4 linked regions of the Homo sapiens genome follow. The protein of the gene in region 4 purifies or fractionates together with the protein of the main gene of each other region. This does not show direct contact. Each region holds a gene or a part of one and is shown on either strand. Other genes may lie near its edges. The genes, in order: CDK5RAP2, AKAP9, PRKACB and PRKAR2B.

What was found.
Region 1: the proteins of PRKAR2B (region 4) and CDK5RAP2 purify together in Homo sapiens (affinity purification with mass spectrometry; 5 studies listed by BioGRID and IntAct, with this or other methods). This does not show direct contact.
Region 2: the proteins of PRKAR2B (region 4) and AKAP9 purify together in Homo sapiens (affinity purification with mass spectrometry; 5 studies listed by BioGRID and IntAct, with this or other methods). This does not show direct contact.
Region 3: the proteins of PRKAR2B (region 4) and PRKACB purify together in Homo sapiens (affinity purification with mass spectrometry; 9 studies listed by BioGRID and IntAct, with this or other methods). This does not show direct contact.

Annotation. Positions count from the first base shown.
Region 1 is NC_000009.12:120,577,151-120,584,373, forward strand, and holds the start of CDK5RAP2 (CDK5 regulatory subunit-associated protein 2), read right to left. Parts: upstream 3,018-7,223; 5' UTR 2,829-3,017; coding exon 2,770-2,828; intron 1-2,769. UniProt on the Homo sapiens protein: Potential regulator of CDK5 activity via its interaction with CDK5R1. Negative regulator of centriole disengagement (licensing) which maintains centriole engagement and cohesion. Involved in regulation of mitotic spindle orientation.
Region 2 is NC_000007.14:91,936,910-91,943,862, reverse strand, and holds the start of AKAP9 (A-kinase anchor protein 9), read right to left. Parts: upstream 3,002-6,953; 5' UTR 2,764-3,001; coding exon 2,716-2,763; intron 1-2,715. UniProt on the Homo sapiens protein: Scaffolding protein that assembles several protein kinases and phosphatases on the centrosome and Golgi apparatus. Required to maintain the integrity of the Golgi apparatus. Required for microtubule nucleation at the cis-side of the Golgi apparatus.
Region 3 is NC_000001.11:84,139,827-84,147,295, forward strand, and holds the start of PRKACB (cAMP-dependent protein kinase catalytic subunit beta), read left to right. Parts: upstream 1-4,444; 5' UTR 4,445-4,535; coding exon 4,536-4,722; intron 4,723-5,449; exon of another isoform or gene 5,450-5,492; intron 5,493-7,469. UniProt on the Homo sapiens protein: Mediates cAMP-dependent signaling triggered by receptor binding to GPCRs.
Region 4 is NC_000007.14:107,159,679-107,162,325, forward strand, and holds the end of PRKAR2B (cAMP-dependent protein kinase type II-beta regulatory subunit), read left to right. Parts: 3' UTR 1-2,133; downstream 2,134-2,647. UniProt on the Homo sapiens protein: Regulatory subunit of the cAMP-dependent protein kinases involved in cAMP signaling in cells. Type II regulatory chains mediate membrane association by binding to anchoring proteins, including the MAP2 kinase.

The sequences.
Region 1 (7,223 bases), on a different chromosome or scaffold from region 4:
CAGGAGTTCAAGACCAGCCTGGTCAACCTGGTGAAACCCCGTCTCTACCAAAAATACAAAAATTAGCCAGGCGTAGTGGGGCATGCCTGTAGTCCCGGCCACTAAGTGGCTGAACCATGAGAATTGCTTGAACTCTGGAGGCGGAGGTTGCAGTGAGCCAAGATCACTCCACTGCACTCCAGCCTGGGCAACAAAGCGAGACCCTGTCTCAAAAAAAAAAAAAAAAAATCATAGAGACAGAAAGTAGAATGGTGATTGTCAGAGGCTGGGAGAAGGGGGGAATAGGGAGTTACTGTTTTAACAGGGACACAGTTTCTGTTTTGCAAGATGGAGAGTTACGAAGATAGATAGTGGTGACCGTTGAGCAATAATACAAATATATTTAATACAACTGAACCATGCTTTAAAATGGTTAAGATGGAATGTATGCAGTATCTACGTCCTGCAAAGGCAGGGAGATGAGGGAAAGGAGAATATTTGCTGATCTGTTGAGTAGTTACTCTGGGTCAGACACTGAGCTAAACTTTTTAAGATTCATTTTAATCCTTATGCCAACCCTAGGCTTTATACCAACCCCTTTTACAGATGATAAACACTGAGGCTCACAGATGATGAGTGACTTGCCCCAGATCAAGGGGTTGTTAAGTAGCAGAACTGGGATTAAAACCCAGCTAGGCCTGGGACCCCAAAACCCAAGTGTCTGGCCAAAAAGCACTGAAATAAGAATGGCTATCTGAGAGAATAATAATGGAAGTTATGATAACAGCAATAAGCAGCATTAAAAGTATAAAGCAGCAGACTGTGAAGAGCAGATTTATATTTAAAAAATAGTTCTCACGCCGGGCGCGGTGGCTCACGCCTGTAATCCCAGAACTTTGGGAGGCCAAGGAGAGCAGATCATGAGATCAGGAGATGGAGACCATCCTGGCCAACATGGTGAAATCCCGTCTCTACTAAAATACAAAAATTAGCCACGCACGGTGGTGCACTCCTGTAATCCCAGCTACTCCGGAGGCTCAGGCAGGAGAATTGCTTGAACCCGGGAGGCGGAGGTTGAAGTGAGCCGAGATCGCGCCACTGCACTCCAGCCTGGTCACAAAGCAAGACTCCGTCTCAAAAAAATAAATAAATAAAAAATAGTTTTCAAATTGTAGTATAAAAAACTATTAGAGGTGCAAAGGACAATACAAGAGAGAAGCCATACTCCCAATATATTGGGGCAGTGGATGTAAAATAGATAGAAAAGGGCATGATGAAATATCACAGGACCCAATTAGACAGGAACTGCAAAGCATCTTAGTCTGTGCCTCATACATGAAGGTTCTCAATAAACAGAAAAACCATTTGTCCAGGTTTACCCAAGATAGGCCCTCTTTATGTCTGCTGCCCGGGCATAAATATTAATTATTTTCACTTTCCTTTTTTTTTTTTTTAAAGATAGAGTCTCACTTTGTCACCCAGGCTACAGTGCAGTGGCATGAACACAGCTCACTGCAGCATCAACCTTCCGGGCTCATGCAATCCTCCTGCCTCAGCCTCCCGAGCGGCTGGGACTACAAGTGCATGCCACCACGCCTGGCTAATCTTTGTAGTTTTTGTAGAGATAGGATTTCACCATGTTGCCCAGGCTGATCTCACACTCCTGAGCTCAAGAAATCGGCCCACCTCGGCCTCCCCAAGGGCTAGGATTACACAGGTGAGCCACCGCACCTGGCTCTTTTCACTCTTAAGTGTCCCAGTTAGCACAATAAATAACATGGTCACCCTTTCAATTAGGATCTGTTGACTAAAAGCAGCAGCTTGTCCATAGTAGAGCTGGATAAACAGTGCAGGTTCTCCGTCAGGGCTCTCCTCCTCTTCCCTCTACTCACTCTCCAACCAGGAGTCTAGGACAACCACAGGGGCCAGCCGTGGAGCAGAGTTGCGCTCTGTTAGGCCTTCCTACCAGACCCCAGCTCCACCAGCAATGGGGACTCCCACAGTCTCTTGGGGCAGGTCCATGGGAGGCCACTCTTGGCCATTATTCCCTGATTCATATCACCTTTGATGACAGTAGTAATAATGACACTAATGGCAACACAAGATCATTTTTTAAGCACTGATTATGTGGCAGGCACTACACCTGCCAAGCAAATGGCTCGACAGGCATCACCTCTTTTAATCCTCACCCCAACTCTGTTGGGTGGATATTACTAGCCCATTTTACAGATGGGAAAGCCGGTGAAATCACTTTACCAAGGTCACACAGCTAGTCAGTTTACAGGGCTGGATTTGAATCCAGTTTTGTCCAACTCTAGCCAAGGTTCTTAATCATTGCACTCCATTGCCTCCTGGGTGGCCACTATGTGACCCAAAAAGCAAAGTCTGGGCATACCGGCTACACTCTCTCCATAATGAAAACAAACTCTCAAACCAGAAGGAACCATCAGGTGCCCTCAAGGTCCCTGTTCTCCACCAATCCCCACTAACGGGATACTCCAAGTGGCCCCACCCTCGTCCTACTCTTTCAGAAAACTCCTTACCTGTTCTTCACACGCTCTACAAAGTACATGGCGCAATGCTACTGGCAATTGTGGTGCAGGTCGCGGCTCCCAGCCCTCCAGAGTGTCAGGTGGTGGGCCCCCCAGAGACCCTCTCCGAAGGAACCCACCCCACACACTGCCCCTGGCCAGACACCCTCAAGAGCAAACCCCAAGGCCGCGTTAGAACGAAATCCCACCAGCTGGAACCCCGGCCCGGTTACCACGACCACCAATGCCCCGGCCGCACCTGCAGCCGCTGAGCGTCCCAGGGACGGTGACGTCCTCTTCCAACACCAAGTCCATCATGGCTACAGAGGTGGCGACAGCGTTGGTGTCTGTGGCGGCGGCGCCACTAGTACCCCCCGCGATAGCGACCCGCCGGGCTCCCCAGGTCCCCGCCCCCTCCACCCCAGCTCTTGTTCAGACTCTGGCGGCGCCGCTGGAATTCAAACCACAGACGCCGCCATCTTTCCCGGCGCTTCTTCCTACGGAAACGAGGCGGGGTCACGGAGGCGCACGCAGTGAAGCCGACCGGCTGGCGCCAGAGGACGGGCAGGGAAGCGGGGATAGGTGCCATCTTAACTAAGGGCAAAGCATCCGTGCTTAAGCCAAGCAAAAATAAGAGACAAAAAAAGGCCGGCTGCCATTTTTTGTGAGGGCACTTAGGGAGAGGCGAGGGCGGGTGCCATCTTTGTTGAGGGCCAAAGCGGGCCCTAGTCCGTTAATTTACGCGGGAGATGGAAATGAATACAGCCACTCAGGAATCCTCAAAGTTCCTAACCTCGTGTTTGCTTTTCTAGAATAATGACCCCAAAACTTTGGGATTTGACCTTAAGTTGAAACTCAGATAACTGAGTGCTGCCTTGCTTTGGAAAAATACTACGTGCGGAATCTCAAGGCAAACAGTAATTTGCAGACTTAGTTTGAAGCAAATAACTCATTCCCATGAGCCAGTGGTCAACAGCACTCCCACTCCAGTCTCTCACCTATTGGTCTTTTATTACCATTAGGACTCAAAGGCACCTGTGGTCAGAAAACTGAGGGCCAGCAAGAGGAAAGGACTCTCCCAAAGTAATTAAGTATTGACAATGTCTTTCAACTGGAGTGGGGGTCTGCAGCTCCTGCCAACTAGATGAGGGCTCTCTGCATAACCCTGGCTGCCTTTCTTTTTTTTTTTTTTTGAAATGGTGCCTCTGTCGCCAGGCTGGAGTGCAGTGGCCCGATCTCAGCTCACTGCAACCTTCACCTTCTGGGTTTAAGCGATTCTTCTGCCTCGGCCTTGCGCCACCACACCCGGGTAATTTTTGTATGTTTAGTAGAGACGGGGTTTCACCATGTTGGCCAGGATGGTCTCAATCTCCTGACCTCGTGATCTGCCCACCCCGGCCTTCCAAACTGCTGGGATTACAGGCGTGAGCCACAGCACCGGCCCCTTGGCTGCCTTTCTTAAAGCACATAGCAATCACCAAACACTTAGATAATCTTGGCAGAGCTTAAGCAATGAAATTAACCTTCCCCTCCTCAACTCAGTGTTGCTCCTTCCTCTGCAGGCCCTTGTGAGAGAGCCCGATGAAAATAACTTGAAATGGTTGGTGAGTGGATAGATAGTGACTTTCCCAGTAATCTTGAACAATTCCCCTTTCACCCTGTTTCCTCATTCTTTTTTTTTTTTTTTTAAATAGAGACAGGGTCTCACTATGTTGCCCAGGCTGGTCTTGAACTCCTGGCCTCAAGCAATCCTCCCACCTTGGCCTCCCAAAGTGCTGGGGTTATAGGCCTGAGCCACTGCACCAGGCCCTCATTCTTCAGTTAAGTAATTAACCAATTATTGATACTTTTCAAAAGAAGCCTTCCCTAGTCATTTAATCTAAATCAAGCCACTTCTTGTATTCCTAGCAATGCAAATTATTCCTTTGTGGCACTTACCATATTTTGCAATTTGTGTGTGTGTGTGTGTGTGTAAAATCATTTTTTAAATGTCTTTCCTTGCACTAGACTGGAAGCTGCATGGGGCAGGGACTATATTCTGAATTGTTCACTGCTATATCCTCAACACCTAGCACTATGTCTGCCACTCAGCAGCTATTTGAAAATGTATGTTAAATGAATGAGTGATTCAATCAATCAGTCTGGAAATAAGGCCAATACCTATCCTGCAAGGTTTTTGTGAGAATAATCAGAGATACTTTTAGGACCTCTGTCAATAGTAATTCTGTGTATCCCAGATTCATATTCATTCTCTCTCTTTCTCTCTCTCTCTCTGTCTCTCTCTCAGCTTTAGTTAGGCTTCCAAAGCCCGCGATTATTTGCCTGTCCCCCTTCTTTCTCTAGATCTTCAACCACACCCACAATTAGCAATGATAAAAGCATGAAAAAGAGGGAAAGCTTAGCACACCTGGTGCACTGCCTCAGGAACGGGGCAGTCCTTGAAGCCCAGGAACCAATACTCCTTGCCAGTAAGTTCAACCCATGAGATAGGTGTGTCCAAAAGCAGGGAAGTTGGGGTGTCAGGATTCCCACCCTGGCTCTGCCACCAACTCTGTGATCTTTGGCAGATCACCTTTTTTTTTTTTTTTGAGATGGAGTTTTGCTCTTGTTGCCCAGGCTGGAGTGCAATGGCACGATCTCGGTTCACCACAACCTCTGCCTCCCGGGTTCAAGCGATTCTCCTGCCTCAGCCTCCCAAGTGGCTGGAATTATAGGCATGCACTGCCACGTCCGGCTAGTTTTGTATTTTTAGTAGAGGCAGGGTTTGTCCATCTTGGTCAGGTTGGTCTCGAACTCCTGACCTCAGGTGATCCACCCACCTCAGCCTCCCAAAGTGCTGGGATTACAGGCATGAGCCACCCCACCCGGCCTGGCCAATCACTTCTCTGTGGACCTCAGCTTCTACATCTGTTAAATGAGAGGGCTGAACCTCTCAGGGTCTCTCAGGATGTTACAGCTCTGGAGGTGATTTCTACATTTCTTTTTTTTTTTTTTTTTAAGATGGAGTCTTGCTCTGTTGCCCAGGCTGGAATACAGTGACGCGATCTCAGCTCACTGCAACCTCCTGGATTCAAGCGATTCTCCCACCTCAGCCTCCCAAGTAGCTGGGATTACAGGCACCTGCCACCACGCCCAGCTAATTTTCGTATTTTTAGTAGAGACGGGGTTTCACCATGTTGGCCAGGCTGGCCTCGAACTCCTGACCTCAGGTGATCCACCCACCTCGGCCTCCCAAAGTGCTGGGATTACAGGTGTGAGCCACTGTGCCTGGCTTCTGTGTTTATTTCAAAGCTACTAACATACAACCAACTCTCTCCTGGGGAGGGAGGCTAACACTTCCCACATGAAAGAACTAACTTTGCATCTCCAGCCAATGAAAACTCTTGAGAATATAAACAAGGAAGAGAACTTATACATTTTGAGCATGTCTTATACGTCACTTGTTCCAGGCATATTACATGCACCACCTCATTTAACCCTCCCAACAACCTTCTGCAGGAGGCGCTACTATCTGACTTACAATTGAGAAGACTGAGGCTGCAAAAGGTAAAAACTACTTACTGAAGGTCCTACAGCTGGTAAGTGCCAGAGCTGGAATTGAGACCAGGGCCCTTTGAATTCCAACACCTTGATTGTTTCAGGCAACCTGTCATCCCCATTTGGGTTTCTCTTTTGCTTTAGAATTTAGTACTAAGAGGCAAGGTCTACATCCAGACGACAGTATTTAAGGGTTGTGTTCACCAGACTCTACTCCTTGGGAAACTGCTTCAAAGTGGCTAAGAGGTGAATCTTAGTGTGGGCAGTTTACAGAACTGGAAGTCTGGACACCTGGATTCTGACTCTGGAAACTCCTCCCATTTATCCTGTGACCTGGGGTTCCTTCCCCTTGCTACACTTCGATTTTCATGTGTAAAATGGGGAGGACAATGCTGAGTTCACATGGTTGCCTCATCTAATTGAATACCTTAGACATTATTGAAGATGAAAGAACCTGTGAGGAGTTGGGTTGTTTTTTTAACTTATTTAATTTTTTTTTTGGACACAGGGTCTTGCTTTGTCAACCAGGCTGGAGTACAATAAGAGTGATCATAGCTCACTGCAGCCTCCACCTTCCAGGCTCAGGTGATCCTCCCACCTCAGCCTCCCGAGTAGCTGGGACCACAAGCAGGTGCCACCATGCCGGACTAATTTGTTTATTTTTAGTAGAGATGGGGTCTTGGTATGTTGCCCAGGCTGGTCTCGAACTCTTGGGCTCAAATGATCCTCCCACCTCAGCGTCAGAAAGTACTGGGGTTATAGACATGAGCCATCACGCCCAGCCTAGGATCTCTCATTATGATTAGTCCATTGCCTTGTTCAGCATGACCATGTCCCTGGGTTGCGTGCTAAACCCTTTAGTGAACCTAGAAACTGAAAATAGAATCAATTGCACAAAGGAAAGGCTATTTGGAAGTTGGTTTTCCTGCTACTGTAGTGGTTTCATGTTCAGAGACAGAGGCCTTTGTCCTGTCTCTGTCTCACCATGATCTTTCTGCCAAACCTAGAGGTGACGTCACTACCACCAGCTGTTTGGGCTATCTGGGGCTATCTCCTTGACAACAGCCACCCAACCACAAAGCTGGCATTATTATTTCCTCAGACAAGGTCATATCAAATGGCTGGGAGGAAGTAGCTTGCAGTCAGATGTTTTTCATTTGGGTAGAACCCTCCTGA
Region 2 (6,953 bases), about 15 Mb from region 4:
ACTTTGGAAAATGATCATTTAAAGTTGTTTCTGATGCCAGCAATATGGATTTCACATTAAGAGAATTCTAGATTAATGTTATTAAATTACAACCGTGCTAGGAAAGTAACACTTATTAATGACTCATTAATCATTCTGTTCATTCATTAAGCAAATATGTATGAATAACTATTTGAAAGGCATTATATTATGGTGCATTAATATCAATAGTAAAGCTTTCTTAGTAATTCTATAAAATGACATAGTAGTATTTAAAACACTTTAACAAAACGTGGAAGAATATCCCCCAAATCCTACTGCAGCTCATCCCTCTTTGTACTTATCACCCAGAGTCTGTCTCTCCCACTAAACAGTGAGCAACTTGAGAGCAGACACTGTCACCACCTCTAGGTATAAAATAGGGATTCAATATACGTTTGCTGAATAAAATTATAATCCAGAGTTTTTCAGTTCTAATCTGAAAGCACACGTTTATACAAATGAAATAATGTACATACTATTTTTGATAATGCCCTTTTCACACTATTTTTCATATTCCTATCAGTCTTCATAATCTTAATGGCTTTAAAATATTCCATCATATTTATATAACTTAGAAAATGATTCCCTTCGTGTTGTCTTTAAAAGTTATTTCCAGGGGTTTTTTTTTGTTTGTTTGTTTTCTGAAACAGGATCTCATTCTGTTGCCCAGGCTGGAGTGCAGTAGCATGATGATAGCTCACTGCAGCCTCGAACTCCTGGGCTCAAGTGATCCTCCCACCTCAGACTCCTGAGTAGCTAGGACTACATACAGGCGCACACCACCATGCCCTGCTATTTTTTTTTTTTATTTAATTTTTTGTAGAGTCTCACTATGTTGCCCAGGTTGGTCTTGAACTCCTGGTGTCAAGCAATCCTCTCGCCCCAGGCTCCCAATGTCAGCATTTTTATATTGTATAGCTAATGTTGCAGCAAACACACCTTGCCTTACAAGTCTCATAGATTTATATCTTACTGGAAAAAGGGCTAAATTCTAAAAGAAGATAATCTTTTACAACAAAAATTCACCTTAAACAGGTTTTTACCCCATACATAGAATTCTGAAAGATAAAGAAACACACAAAGAAACTAGAATTGTATTTTGCCACATCAACTACAACTGCAAGCAATTTAAATAAATCCTCTATTATGAAATGTGTATGTCCAAAGTAAACCATGTTTTGTAGGACTGCTTCACATATATTCAGGAAAGACATTTCTGGGGGCAGGCAATAAAAATTGTGAGGTAACAGACAAGTAAGACATCTAATCAGATCTTCAATGCTTTTGGAGGGGCACACACTTCACCTCCACTACTTCCGTAGATGCATAGAGCTTGCTCAGCCCCTCAGATTGCACAAGTGTAGGCTTTGGACTTCTAAAGATACCCTGATTCCCCTTTCCCACCATTTATAGATTCGAAAGTAAAAATTTACCTGGCTATATACAAGCATTTAAACCTTGATCTTAAATAGAGGGAGCTTATAGGAAAGTCAACTATATTTTAGAAATATGAAGCTAGTTTTTATATATATATTCATTTAACAAACTTGTGTTGAGCTTCTATCACTGCATCTCTGCGGTATGGCCCTTCATTGATAATAAATCACTAACCTGGTTTCCTTTGTTTATGTGAGGAGAAGAGAAAGGAAGAGAGGAAAAACAGTTACCTGTAATACAATTTTTGTCCAAGTATGACTGCTAACAATTATCTCTAAAAATAATATAATCCATAAAAGAAGACTTCATTGAAGGGAGGAAGGGGGCTTTTGAGCCCAGACAAAATATATGCTCAAATATGTAATTTTTAAAAGAAATATGCTACGCAGCTTATATTCTGTATATGTTAAATTTCTCATGAAGCCCAATGAACGATGCCTGTGTATAATTGTGTATTGTATTGTTTGCTTTACAGGCTTTTCCATAACCGTTCACACACACACACACACACACACACACACAACCAGGATTCGCCAGAGAGATATATAACAACTAAATTATTTAAAGCAGGAATTCTATAGGTGTTGGCATATGGAACCTTTCGGTCCTCAGAAGTTCCATTCACAGACTGCATTAACATTCCATAGGACACAAAAGCGCATGCCATGACAAAGACCTTCAAGTACAAACATACAAAGACACGCTTCTAAAAACGCCCCTAAAGCCAAGTTCACAGCTGGCACTTGTGGCACACACAAGCCACTGCTGAGACAGCTGTCACAGGCCAATCACACACACCCAAGAGTGCCAGCGTGCTACCTAAGGAAGACAAGCTGATGATCAGCGCACAAATCCCCAACCCAATAAAGAAAAGCCCTAAATCCCCACCCTGGAAAGCACAATGCCTGCACCACCCAGAAAACTCCTTAAAAAAATGAAAGATCGGAGGTTTAGAAGCAACTAAACACTAGTTTACAGCAATACAGTAAAAGGGGAGTTTTATTTGGACATTCACGAGAAAGGAGCCACAATATTCAATCCTCGCGGAAGTATTATCAGCTAGCACAAGGCTTTGTCCCCCAACTGGAAAAAGGGGAAAGGAGGAGGGCGAGGAGAGATGCAGACCCTAAGACCCTGCAGCACCTCCCTCTCGGGCAGTGCACTGGGGCTGCGGCGAACTCCGCTTCCCAGGCCCCCTCCCACCCCGTGCTAGCCACCGCCTCCCACCGCAGGCCCGGTTGCCTCGGGCTCTCCTACCTTGGCTTTGCCGGCCTCCAGCTTCTTCTGTCTCTCCTCGTCCTCCATGGCCTCTGCAAGGAAGGCAGGGGAAAACAGGGGTTGAGGGGTGGTTGGGGATAGAAAGGAAAGGTCGATTTGGACGGAGGTGGGACGGCAAGCTCCACGGCCTAGAGAGCCGATTCGGTCCGGCGCTCCCCCGCCCGAAGTGGAAGCAGTCTCCGCGCTCACTGGCGGATCGTCCTCAGCCGCACGGGAAGCGCCGTCACCGCCGCCGCCGCCGCCATCTTCGTCTCCACGTAAACACACGGCGAGGCGGGAGGGGCTGGAACGTCTGTCCGCGCAGCCGCCTCGTGGGCAGGTGCTCCTGGGGTGCCGCCCCGGCCCAGCCCTCCGGGGTCAACCCTTGCCAGGCCTGGGACCTGCCTCCTACCAGCGAGGATCCCGCCGTAGAGAGCGCCCTTCCCGCACATCAACGGCTCACAGGTGGCGGCCGAGCTGAGGGGTAGGAGAGACGGAGTGTGCCAGAGGCTCCTGGCCTGACCCCCACCCTCCGTCCGAGGAATCCACTGCTATTAAAACATGAGTTTTTTTTTTCCTTCAGGTTACAAAACTAACACACCTAATGGTGAAATTGGCGAACACCTACAAGCTCCAACGGAAAAGTTCCGGTGGGGGGTGGTGGGGGGGCGGACGCCAGGTTTTCTACCTACATTAACTGCTTGACTCAAGAATTATGAGAGCAGCTAATTGCTCTTATTACTTCCTTAGCCTGAAAAGTCCCTCCCTCTTCCCTCCACTGGTTCCCACTCAATCTCCGGTTCATCCTTATAGTCCCATCGCACACGCTGCCTCCAAATGGCTTTTCTGACCTCTTGTTCCCTCCACGGCAACCGAGACACATCCAGTCAAAACTTAGTCCCCTCCCCCGACTCTTTGGGGCTTCCCTTTAACAGTAGTGTTCTGAAAGGAGCCTGAGCTTTAGAACCTCGGTTAGGGACAATGCCAGACTACACTAACTTTCTAGCGTTAATGACAAGTTACCTATCCTCCCTGAGCCTACCTGGAATTTTTGGAAGGGTTGTTAATATATGTGACTGCCCTGACATATTAAAACGTCCTGAATAATGTCAGCTTTATTTCTCCTTGGACTTCCTTTAAGTACCCTGCACCATATTTTAATAATTTGTGTGCGTCTTAGTTCAGCTCATACTCCCAGCTCCTTGATGACAGAGACTCATCATAAGTCTTGCTCATCTTGGCTTTACTAAAATGACCAGCACAGAGCTCTGCACTCAATAAACGCTTTTTGGATTGAATTGAGCAGTGTTTATAAATTTAACATTACTATCTTTCCTTGTTTCCCCGACATGTGCTCCCTCAGTCCTTTGTGTTCGTCTCCCTGCCCTCCAATGCTCACATCCATTCCTGGAGTGAACTACACATTTTAATGTCTCTGGTTGATTACTCAGATTTATCATGTTTCTCCGTTGCTTTGAGCTAGGTTGGACTGAAAAACTAGCAGTTGTGAACAAAAAATAGGCTAAAATGAGTTCAAGCGTAGAAGTGGTGTTAAGTGAAAAATTGAGGTTAAAAAACAAAAAAGGAGATAATAAAGACCTTAAGTCTACCACAAACTGAAGATGAGTTTTAAATAGCCCTCATTTAGAAATCTTAGCTTTAAAAAAGATTTTTTTCTTAAGCTCCGTAATGCATACATTCTGCCAACTTCTAACAGCCAAGTGCATATTGTCCTGTTATCTCAACCTGAATTAGGAACCAGGTAAAATTAGACATTTTATCATAGGGATGAAAGAATTGAGGCAATAAGTGATTTACTTAGTCACCCATCAAATTAAGAGTAAGGACTAGAACTAAGTGTTCTAATAGTGCAGTGATTTAAATACTGCCTGGATTGAGGGATTATGAGTGTAGATGCTGATTGCCTAGGAGGGGGAAGCCCCAGGGTATCCAAAGCTATTCCTGTTTGTTAAAGGATACTGCTTTCTCGGTGACTAAATAAGTCAGCTGTTTGTAGGTGCTGAGAATGTTCAAGAATACCTTCCAAAGCAACAAGATTATTTCAATGTTTCCTTCACTGATAGCAGCCAATCATATACATGTCTAGTTTACATAATGGGTGCTCAATCAATGTTGAAAGTTAGATTTGTGTTAACTTCTATTAGAAGAGCAAGCATTGGGCACTAGTGTTCTGACTCTTCCTTATGGCACCTATTCTGTCATAACTTGTCATACCAATCATTAATTCATGTCATGTCATTCACTTACTCAGGTGATTCTTTCAGAAGATATTTCAGCAAAGACTTGAAAGAGATGAGGAGGCTGGGCGGGGTGGTGCACGCCTGTAATCCCAGCACTTTGGGAGGCTGAGCGGGGTGGATCGCTTAAGCTCAGGAGTTCGAAACCAGCCTGGGCAACATGACGAAACCCTGTCTCTACAAAATAAATAAATAAATAAATAAAAATAAAATACTGGGTGTGGTGGCGGGAGCCTGTAGTCCTAGCTACTCCAGAGCCTGAGGCGGGAGGATCACTTGAGGCCGGGAGGCCAAAGCAGTGAGCCCAGATTGTGCCACTGCACTCTAGAGTAAGGACCTAGACAACAGGTGACACTGTCCCAAAAAACAAGCAGGTGGTGGGTGGGGGTAGAGAGCCACGGAGATAGTTGAGGGTACAGCAAATCCAAAGAAAGGCCCTCAAGCGAGACCATGATGGACCTTCTCAAGGAAGAGTAGGAGGTGAGGGTGGCTAGAGTGGAATAAACAAGGGAAATAGTAGGAGATGAAGTCAGAAAAGTAACAGGGGGCCAGATCCTGTAGAGTTCTTTTCTTTCTTTCTTTCTTTCTTTTTTAAACGGAGCCTCACTGTGTCACCCAGGCTGAATGCAGTGGCCCAATCTTGGCTCACTGCAACCTCCCGGGCTCAAGCAATCCTCCCACGTCAGCCTCCTGAGTAGCTGGGGCCACAGGCGCACTCTGCCATAGCCAGCTTATTTTTGTATTTTTTGTAGAGGCAGGGTTTCACCATGTTGCCCAGGCTGGTCTGAAACTCCTGAGCTCAAGCAATCCGCCCGCCTCAGCCTCCCAAAGTGCTGGGGTTACAGGTGATCCACCATGCCCGGCTTCAGATCCTGTAGAGTTCTAAAGGTCATTGTAAGGACTTCAGCTTTTACTCTGGGTAAGATTAGGAGCCATTGGAGAATTTTGAGCAGATGAATGACATGATTTGGCTTATGTTGTTCACGGACATTTGGCTGCTATGAGGAGAAAGGGGGATCAGTTTGGATGTTATTTCAGTAATCCCAGATAATGGGAATTTGGGCCATAGTACTGTAGTGGAGGAAAAGATATGGAATCAGATTCTGGATATCTTTTGAACATAGAACCAATAGTATCATAGGAGTTGTATATTGGATATGAGGTTTGAGACAAAAAGAAAAGTCAAGGTTGACTCCAACATTTTTGGCTTGAGCAACTGAAGTGATGAAGTTGCCAGTAACCAAAATGGAGAAGAGAAAATCTGGGGACCAAGTGTTCAGTTTTGGACATGGTAATTTAGACATACACATTAGGCATCCAAGAACTGATGTCACCCTAAGACATCAGTTAGTCTGGATTCAGGAGACAGGTCCAAGCTAGAAATAGAAATGTGAGAGTAGTCAGTATTCAGGATGTAGATGGTATTTTAAGTTAAGGAATTGGATGAGATAATCTAGGGCCATGCTATTCAATACAACAGCTATTAGCTAGTCTGAATTGAGATGTGCTGTAAGTGTAACACTTTGGATTTGGAAGACTTAATATTAAAATAAAATAACAAAATATTGCACTATTTTTATATTATTAAAATGATTATATTTGGGACCTATTGGGTTTAATAAAATATATATTAATTTCACCAGTTTCTTTTTTTTTTAAATGAAGTTACTACAAAGTTTCAAATTACATATGTGGCTTGCATTTGTGGCTCACATTATTTTTCTATTGGACCATGCTGCTTTAAGGAGCAAGTTTAGATAGAAAGGTGTTACAAAGACTGAGTTTTGGAATACTTCAACTCTAAGAGGGAGGCAAGGTGAGCAGAATCTGCAAATGAGACTGAGAACAGTGGCTAGATATGTGAAAGGAATCAGTAGCCAAGCGAAGAAAGTGAAGGAGGAGGGAGTGATGAACCAAGACAACTGCTACTAATAGGTCACGTAAAATGAGGATTGGATATAGCAAGGTGAAGGTCACTGG
Region 3 (7,469 bases), on a different chromosome or scaffold from region 4:
GGTGGGCGGATCACGAGGTCAGGAGATTGAGACCATCCTGGCTAACACGGTGAAACTTTGTCTCTACTAAAAATAATTAAAAAATTAGTTGGGTGTGGTGGCATGCATCTGTAGTCCCAGCTACTTGGGAGGCTGAGGCAGGAGAATAGCTTGAACCCAGGAGGCGGAGGTTGCAGTGAGTCGAAATGACACCACTGCACTCCAGCCTGGGCGACAGACTGAGACTCCGTCTCAAGAAAAAAAGGAAAAAAAAATAGAAGATTTACACTATCAGATTTCAGACTTACTAGAAAGCTATGGTAATCAAGACAGTATAGTATTGGTGAAAGAATTGACACATATATAGGTCAGTGAAAGAGAATAGAGAGTCCAGAAATAGACTCACACAAATATGGTCAATTGATTTTTGACAAAGGTGCAAATGCAATTCAACAGTAAATGGATATATAAATTGTGGTAATTCCATACAATAGAATTTAGCCATATAAATGAGTGAATATTAAGATACACAACATAGATAAATCACAATTGCCATACTATACTAAATGAAAGAAGCCAATCTGAAAATGTTGCATAGTCTATAAGTCCACTTATATATAACATTCTGGAAAAAGCAACACTATTACCCTAAAACCTTTATTTGAATAGCAGGAGTTATAGTCATGTCATTTGTCCTCTACATGGAGCACATACATCATTTACACATTAAATATGTTTTCATGTTTTTCTTTTATTTAACCTTTAAACTCTAAAGTACATAGTTCTGCTTGGCCCCAAGATGATTGTAAGAAACATGGACAATGAAATTTTATGGCTATAGGTGACCGTCTTAATTAAAACCTTCTCATAGCAGATTTTCAGACCTGGGACAATATATCCAAGAATGAATCTTACCCACCACTATTTTTTCACCCCAACTTCTTCACTCTTATTTGGAAAATAACTGCATTTAAAAATAAAATGTTTACTTCATGTGGTAATCAGTGTCTTGCAGTACAAGAAACCCTGATCTAGGAGTTTGAAGACCTAGGTGACTTTGGGCAAGTCACTTAATGTTTATTTTTTTGCATCTTAAAATAAGGATAATAATACCTGTGCTGCTTACTTTATTTGTAAGGATCTCAGGTGCATTACAGTAATTTCACAATGGTTTTACAGAGTAAATCACTTTATATGTGGTAAAGTGCTTGGTAAATGTGTCATCACTATTATTAAATAAAAGAAACCAATATTTTGTGGTATTTTGTGGCAATTAAAGCTGGTTCAACTCTGAAAATTTCTATAATTTTAAAAATTAATGCAGAATGAAGGAGGAATAAAATCAACCTCATGAAGTTGATTACTCTCTAGTTTTAAAATCTTATTTAACTACAAGATAAGCTATTCTGGTAAATTCTCGGTGCATGGCGAGACATTTAGTGCGAATTAAAGTTGTGGAAACACCGCTAGGAAGAATAACAAGCAATATACTTCTTAAAGTTAATTGCAGTTATGAAGGAATTCATAGTTTTAGTTAAAACTGCAGTTGTTTCTTTCTAGCAGTAGATGCCAGTAGAGTTCTTCTTTTTATTTTTATTTCTTAATCAAAAATCAAATATCCGAAGTACTTCTATAGCAATAGCTTCCTGGTCACATTACCACATATAGAAACATTGCTTTAAATATTAAATATTCTATTTTCTGGAAGGACTTGATAACAAATTGAAACAATTTTATTTTTAAAACAGTGCAGATTTAAAATACGGTGTTTTCAAGATACTCATCTAGTGAAGTTTACTCTTTTTGCTTTAGTAATTTTGTTTTAAAGCTTATGCATTGTTTTAAATAAAGTAATCTTAGTGTTCTAGTTAGGAATCTGCAACTTCTGTACTTGAGCAACATTGAATATAAATAAAAAATCTGGCTAGATGTGTTAAAAATGAATACGGTCCAGCTGAAATGTTACGATTAGTTTGTGTATTTGGCAATGGAATACCATGAGTGTAATACTTTGGGGAGGTTAATATGTCAGAGAGGTGAATGATTAAAGGGGGTAATTGGAAGCGGGGAAAACAAGAAGTTAAGAAGTCCACATTGGCACTGAGTAAAAATGTAATTCAAAGAATGAATAAAATTTAGTAACAAATAGAAAAAAGGAGAAGTTCAATGATAACAGTTCTATTACTCTTGTCTCTATATATGAGCAACTTGGTGCTTCTTGGATTATCTATAAATATGGTCCCATCATAAATAAAATTCAAACATTTTCAAGTATTCGGTGATTCTACTTAGACCTTTAAATTGTTAAAAATGAGTGAATACTTTTTTCTTTTAACATGTTTATTGAGTATGTAATACATGCATTTCATTTATGAATTCAAGTAACTCACAATTTAGGGTCATATAAATTCATAAACAGTACCTTTTAACATAATATTATGAGGTCAGTGAAAACAAAGCAGCAAAGTTTGTTTTCCTAGGAAGTATGTGGCAGACTTCACTGAAGAGGTGACATTTGAACTAAGCCTTGAAGATGATTAGAATTTCCTTCAGTAGAGCAAATCAAGGGAATTCAGTAATTTTATCCACTTCTTCCCTTACAGAATCAGTCCATGCTCTGTAGATATTTGTTGAAGACTACAGACATTTAATAAGTGTCTGTTTTGTGTAAGGCACTACCAGATGTTAAGAAACAAATTATTGTTATGCACACATAATATTTATACATAAAGCTACAAATTTAAGAATTTTGTCATATAGATGCTGTTGCATATTTGTTTAGATTGATAAAAATTTTATTACACAAAACAAAGTATACAGAAATGAGCTGTTACATGGCAAAATTCATTGGTCAGTGTTTTGTTAACTGTTATTCACACATAATATTTATACATAAAGCTATAAATTTAAGTTTATCTTATAGATACTGTTACATACTTGTTTAGATTGATATGAATTCCATTACACAAAGTATACACAAATGAACTGTTAAATGGCAAAATTCACTAATCAGTGTTTTCTTATTGGCCTTTTATGTAGTCCTAATTTGATTACATTATTGTTCCTATTTATTTTACTTATCAGTATTGTTTCTATTTTTTATGTTTGTCAAACAGTTGGCAGTAAATCTGAAGTAAGATTTTTTTAGATAGATTGTTTTAGATAGACCTTTTTCTTTCTTTCCTTTCCTTCCCTTCCCTCCCCTCCCCTCTGCTTCCAAAGAGAACCACGGAAATTTCTTATCCTTTAGTGTCAAAAAAACAAGTACTCAAAATTTTTGTTAAATGCCACAGGTTACTTTCTTTCCTGAAAATTGACAAGGCAAGTTTTACTTACTTTTAATCAAAAGAGATGTTTTGGCCAGGCGCGGTGGCTCACACTTGTAATCCCAGCACTTTGGGAGGCCAAGGCGGGCGTATCGCTTGAGGCCAGGAGTTTGAGACAACTCCTGACCTGGCCAACATGGAGAAACCCCATCTCTACTGAAAATACAAAAATTAGCCGGGCATGGTGGTGCGCGCCTATAATCCCAGCTACTCGGATGTCTGAGGGGCGAGAATCGCTTGAACCTAGGAGCGGAGGTCGCAGTGAGCAGAGGTCGCACCACTGCACTCCAATCTGGGAGACAGAGTGAAACAACGTTTAAAAAAAAATAGAGAGGTGTTTCTAAGTGAGATCACTAAATCAGGGGTTTAGGTAAGTAGTAGTCTTCAGTGGTAAGGTTTTAAAATTAACATGTCTCAGCCAACTAGAAGGAACTTTTTTCTCTCAATTGAAATTTCTTGCTATGGTGGATTTTATATAATTTAAATCTTGTATTTTGTTCTTTTCAAATTTTAGAATGTTTTAAAATGTACCCCTGGTAATAGACATATGTCAGCAGATTATAAGTTTGATAAGCAATACTGACATACTAAGTGTATGTAGTTCCTGTATGTATTAGGCCTAAATCAATGAATTAGAAACATTCAATTTTTTAAAGTGCTATTTCACATTGTTTTATTTATACGTGTTATAAATTTGTTTTGCAAGAGTTTTTTCATACCCATTTCATACTAGTTTTTTTTTATGAAAAGTTAGCTGCTTATAAGGATTCATAAAATCTGTATATTAGTTGATTTCCTAGAAAAAATACAACCTGTCTTTAGCATGTTGTGTTTGGAGGACAGCTTGGCCTTCAGTTGTTTGCATAGACTTGTCATACATGTTTAACTAGTTTTCTTTTTAAAGAATGTTTAGCCTACTATATATATAAAGCTTTATATTTAATGCTCTCATTAGCCTATATATTAATATTAAAACACCCAAACATAAAGCCTTTTAGGCAGATATTGCAAGTTTTTAAAATCCTCAACTCTAGCTGAAAAGTGTTTTGCTAAGAAAAGCTCAGTAATGTGCTGTTTTATATTAACAGGAAACAGAACAGCAGTAGTGGTTTGAATACCCTGCAAACAGGAAGTTTGACACATGCATAGCTCTTAGCTTCTGTGTAAGAAGTTGTGAGCTCCTTCTGGAAACATTTGCAGTTACATTAAGTAAAGTGTAAATGCACATGAATGGCAGCTTATAGAGAACCACCTTGTAACCAGTATACAGGTACAACTACAGCTCTTCAGAAATTGGAAGGTTTTGCTAGCCGGTTATTTCATAGACACTCTAAAGGTACTGCACATGATCAGAAAACAGCTCTGGAAAATGACAGCCTTCATTTCTCTGAACATACTGCCTTATGGGACAGATCAAGTAAGTTTTGTTTTTTAAATGATACATTATAACTAGCAACTAAAATGGTAATTGGAGTTTTACAATCAAACATAAAGAACCCTCTTTTGTTTGTTGTTTTCTGATTTTCACAAGGACATTTTGCAAGATGAAGTTGAAAGAATTCCATAAAAACTTGATTATAAGTTGAGCTGAATCATTCAGCTTTCATCATTGTATGGTTTTATTTTTGACTAAGTTCAATATCAGTGACAAGATTTTCTATAAAATTCTTACATCATTTCTAATGTACTTTTTTTTGTTGTTCTTACATAAAAATGAAATACTTAAGTTTCAGAAACAACCATCTGTTTACTTCTTAAAATGTCTTGTATTTATAAGCTTTAAACTTTGAAAGGGGCAACAAGACTCTTGAATTTATAATTACATTTCTATTGTGTTTGCCATGGTTTTATTTTTAAATGCATGTGAGAAAGTTATTTCAGTTTTACAAACAGGAATTTCTAAAATAAAACATAATTATTCTATCTAAATTCTTACACTTATAACATTATGGATATCAAAAACTTTATAATTATATTTTATGTTATTTATACATATGACTCAAATGCAGGAAAAGTTGGTTATGCATGAATCACATTCTTTCAGGCATGTTAAAATGTTTGAACTTGCAGCTTTGCTAAAATGGTGCTGGGGAACCATTTTTGGTGCCATACACTCTAAAAGATAAATTGCACATATAAACAATACTAGTGCCGCCATTCTACATCTCACCTTGGACCCTCCTCAAGGTATTTCTGTGACTCCAATTAGAGGAACAATAGAATTACCCTTGAAACTTTTGCCCTCTTTGGTGTGTTTGTTTGATCATCAAATAGCACTAGCGTTTGACTCTTTCTGTTTATGTATTTGGTAGCAGTTAAGGAAGAAAACTCAGCTTAACAACCACAACAGCAAAATCAAGAATGGCTTACAAAATTTACTCCTAGGTTTATACAGCACCTTGACAGTGTTATAGAAGCTTATTTGAATTAATTTTTTACTAAATCAGAAATTTTTTTACATTCTTCAAACTATTTTTGGGAGATTGAGGAAGAACATGTATTTGTGCATTTTTTCCACTTAAAAGGTTTTGGGTTATTTATAGTCTTTACTGTATAGCAAGTTGATGGATGAGGAATATGAATATATATCTTCAAGTTAATGAACTGTTGAATATTAAAATAGTGGTATAATATTAAACTTTACCATGTAACAAAAGCTTGTTAATTATTGTCCTTGCCCTATTCTTTTAAATTGCAGTCTTTTAAATCCTTTTGGAAATTATTTTTATGCATTTCAAGTATGTTTTAATTTAAAGTTAAATGAGGAATTAAGACAGAATTGAATTAATTTCTGTTTCATTAATACCTGCTCTTCATATAGTGGGTGTTTAGTAAAAGTGTCTCAAATAAATGAATGTTAGGGGTTTTTAATAATTAAAAGTTATGTTTGAACTAGACTTTCACCACTTTTTAAATGTATGGGATCTGTGATGCTTTCTAAAACATATTTTAAAATCTAGTAATGGAAAATAGTATCATGAGCCATGATTTCTATTGGATAAAATGCTGTTTTGTTTTTTTTTTATTGTGAAGTCAAAACAAATAGGATTCTTGTACACAAATAAAATTAGGAGCAAACCATGTAGCGCTGCAAATAATATGCATGATGTAAGAAATACTTAAAGAGTAACTGAATGTTCATTAATTAAGCATTCCTCTACTTGACTCTCCTTTTTATATCCCTGAATACCATAATAGAGATAATAATTTTATGTCTAAGGATGAGTATGGTAGCATGAAGCTATAATTTCCTATTATGAAATGTATTATTGTAGAGGAGAAAACACTGATAGAGCTGAAATAGAGGAATCCGATCATTTCAAAATTCCAAGGTTTATTTTTGTGGTGAAAACACAATTTTTATTTATTTGGCGAATGAGTTATAGAAGGAGTTCTGACTGTACAAAGTTTCATATGAACCACATTCTTCAAAGCTACTTAAAGCAGTTTACTTGCATGACTCATTTGACAAGGGAATGTAATGTCTCCTGATGATAAACACTGAATATGTTTGTTCCTAAAGTGTTTTTATAATGAAATAAACTAAGCATAGAAACTACATCAATTTACAAAAAAAATTCATAAACCTTTGTATAAAGATCAGTTACCAATTTAGGAGACATGAAATGCAGCATGCTTCAATCCAAGTTTCTTTCGTGTCCAGTGACATTATGTATAGGAAGAAACACAGAACAAAGGCCACATAGTGGTCTCAGGTGTTTCATCTTTTACTATTAAACTAAGTAACAGAAATTCCTGTTTGATTAAATAAATATGTAACAGCTAATTGCATGCACATATAAATACATGAAGTTCAAAGAAAAGCATGGAGGAATTCTGCTTTTTGTTCCAACTCAGAATGAATGAGAGCATTGACATGCGTTAAGTTCTCTTTCTAGCAAATTTATTATAGTTAGCTTTTTAATCTTCCTTTGATCATAAATGTGTAGAGTTATACAATGCTGACTTAATGAAGGTCTAACTACAGTATTTTAAGAAGCAAATAGGTCAATACCATCAAATACTTTTTCTTTCCCTTTTCCTATGAATTGACAGGCTATTTCTCTTGTAAATACAAATCCATTTTAGTAAATCTTAGATTTAAATATATTAAACAAATGAGCAGTTTTGATTATGGATGTCCTCTAGCAAAATCATAAAGTG
Region 4 (2,647 bases):
ATTTCAGGTTTTTTCCTTTTTTTACATTTACAACGTATCAATAAACAGTAGTGATTTAATAGTCAATAGGCTTTAACATCACTTTCTAAAGAGTAGTTCATAAAAAAATCAACATACTGATAAAATGACTTTGTACTCCACAAAATTATGACTGAAAGGTTTATTAAAATGATTGTAATATATAGAAAGTATCTGTGTTTAAGAAGATAATTAAAGGATGTTATCATAGGCTATATGTGTTTTACTTATTCAGACTGATAATCATATTAGTGACTATCCCCATGTAAGAGGGCACTTGGCAATTAAACATGCTACACAGCATGGCATCACTTTTTTTTATAACTCATTAAACACAGTAAAATTTTAATCATTTTTGTTTTAAAGTTTTCTAGCTTGATAAGTTATGTGCTGGCCTTGGCCTATTGGTGAAATGGTATAAAATATCATATGCAGTTTTAAAACTTTTTATATTTTTGCAATAAAGTACATTTTGACTTTGTTGGCATAATGTCAGTAACATACATATTCCAGTGGTTTTATGGACAGGCAATTTAGTCATTATGATAATAAGGAAAACAGTGTTTTAGATGAGAGATCATTAATGCATTTTTCCCTCATCAAGCATATATCTGCTTTTTTTTATTTTGCAATTCTCTGTATTCTATGTCTTTAAAAATTTGATCTTGACATTTAATGTCACAAAGTTTTGTTTTTTTAAAAAGTGATTTAAACTTAAGATCCGACATTTTTTGTATTCTTTAAGATTTTACACCTAAAAAATCTCTCCTATCCCAAAAATAATGTGGGATCCTTATCAGCATGCCCACAGTTTATTTCTTTGTTCTTCACTAGGCCTGCATAATACAGTCCTATGTAGACATCTGTTCCCTTGGGTTTCCGTTCTTTCTTAGGATGGTTGCCAACCCACAATCTCATTGATCAGCAGCCAATATGGGTTTGTTTGGTTTTTTTAATTCTTAAAAACATCCTCTAGAGGAATAGAAACAAATTTTTATGAGCATAACCCTATATAAAGACAAAATGAATTTCTGACCTTACCATATATACCATTAGGCCTTGCCATTGCTTTAATGTAGACTCATAGTTGAAATTAGTGCAGAAAGAACTCAGATGTACTAGATTTTCATTGTTCATTGATATGCTCAGTATGCTGCCACATAAGATGAATTTAATTATATTCAACCAAAGCAATATACTCTTACATGATTTCTAGGCCCCATGACCCAGTGTCTAGAGACATTAATTCTAACCAGTTGTTTGCTTTTAAATGAGTGATTTCATTTTGGGAAACAGGTTTCAAATGAATATATATACATGGGTAAAATTACTCTGTGCTAGTGTAGTCTTACTAGAGAATGTTTATGGTCCCACTTGTATATGAAAATGTGGTTAGAATGTTAATTGGATAATGTATATATAAGAAGTTAAAGTATGTAAAGTATAACTTCAGCCACATTTTTAGAACACTGTTTAACATTTTTGCAAAACCTTCTTGTAGGAAAAGAGAGCTCTCTACATGAAGATGACTTGTTTTATATTTCAGATTTTATTTTAAAAGCCATGTCTGTTAAACAAGAAAAAACACAAAAGAACTCCAGATTCCTGGTTCATCATTCTGTATTCTTACTCACTTTTTCAAGTTATCTATTTTGTTGCATAAACTAATTGTTAACTATTCATGGAACAGCAAACGCCTGTTTAATAAAGAACTTTGACCAAGGCTATAAATGCCACGTACATTATTTTCAGTATTGTTGGTTATATTTAAATTTTCCTTACAATAAAGCACACTTTTATAATAAAATACATGAATTATTGTTTTTCATACTTTTTTGCTTGTTTCTTTAAAGTTTTCTGACGTGCATAATGCATAATTCATTGAAAAGCATGATAGCAATGTGGCATGTGGAAGCGAACCCCCAGGGCATAACATAGTAAGAAAGTATGGTTCTGTATGGCAATAGGTTTTTAAAATTATTAGCTATTCATCATGTGTGGGAGAAATAATTGTGGTGTGTTGCAGATTTATTTGGCCATTTAGAATAACCAAATCAATCTGGCTAACTAGGAATTTATGTGTAAAATTATCTGATTAAAACAGCTCAAGTTTGACTTGTGGATGTCATTATTTAATTATTAATCAACACTCCTTACTATGTGAGAATTCTCTGTTGACCATTCATTCAAGGACAGAGCCTCTCGTGTATCATGCGTGGCTAAGGAAAGGGGTGAGGACTTTTTCCCCAAGAGTGACGGTGCTTTCCCTTATTTTAAATAAAGGTGTGTGTGTGTGTGTGTGTGTGTGTGTATGTATGTGTGTGTGTATTGTTTTCTACATATCCATATGTACTAGGGCTTAGTGCAGATATTTTAACATACACGTTACCTGTGACACAACTTAGGTGAATGTATATGTGTTACCATTAGGATTAGTATTATAAACTCTGGCTAAATGCCATTTAAAATGCTTTAAAAGGCCGGCACCATGGCTCATGCCTGTAATCCCAGGACTTTGGGAGGCTGAGGCAGGAGGATCACGAGGTCAAGAGATCGAGACCATCCTGGCCAATATAGTGAAACCCCGTCTCTATTAAAAATACAAAAATTAGCTGGGCGTGGTGGCATG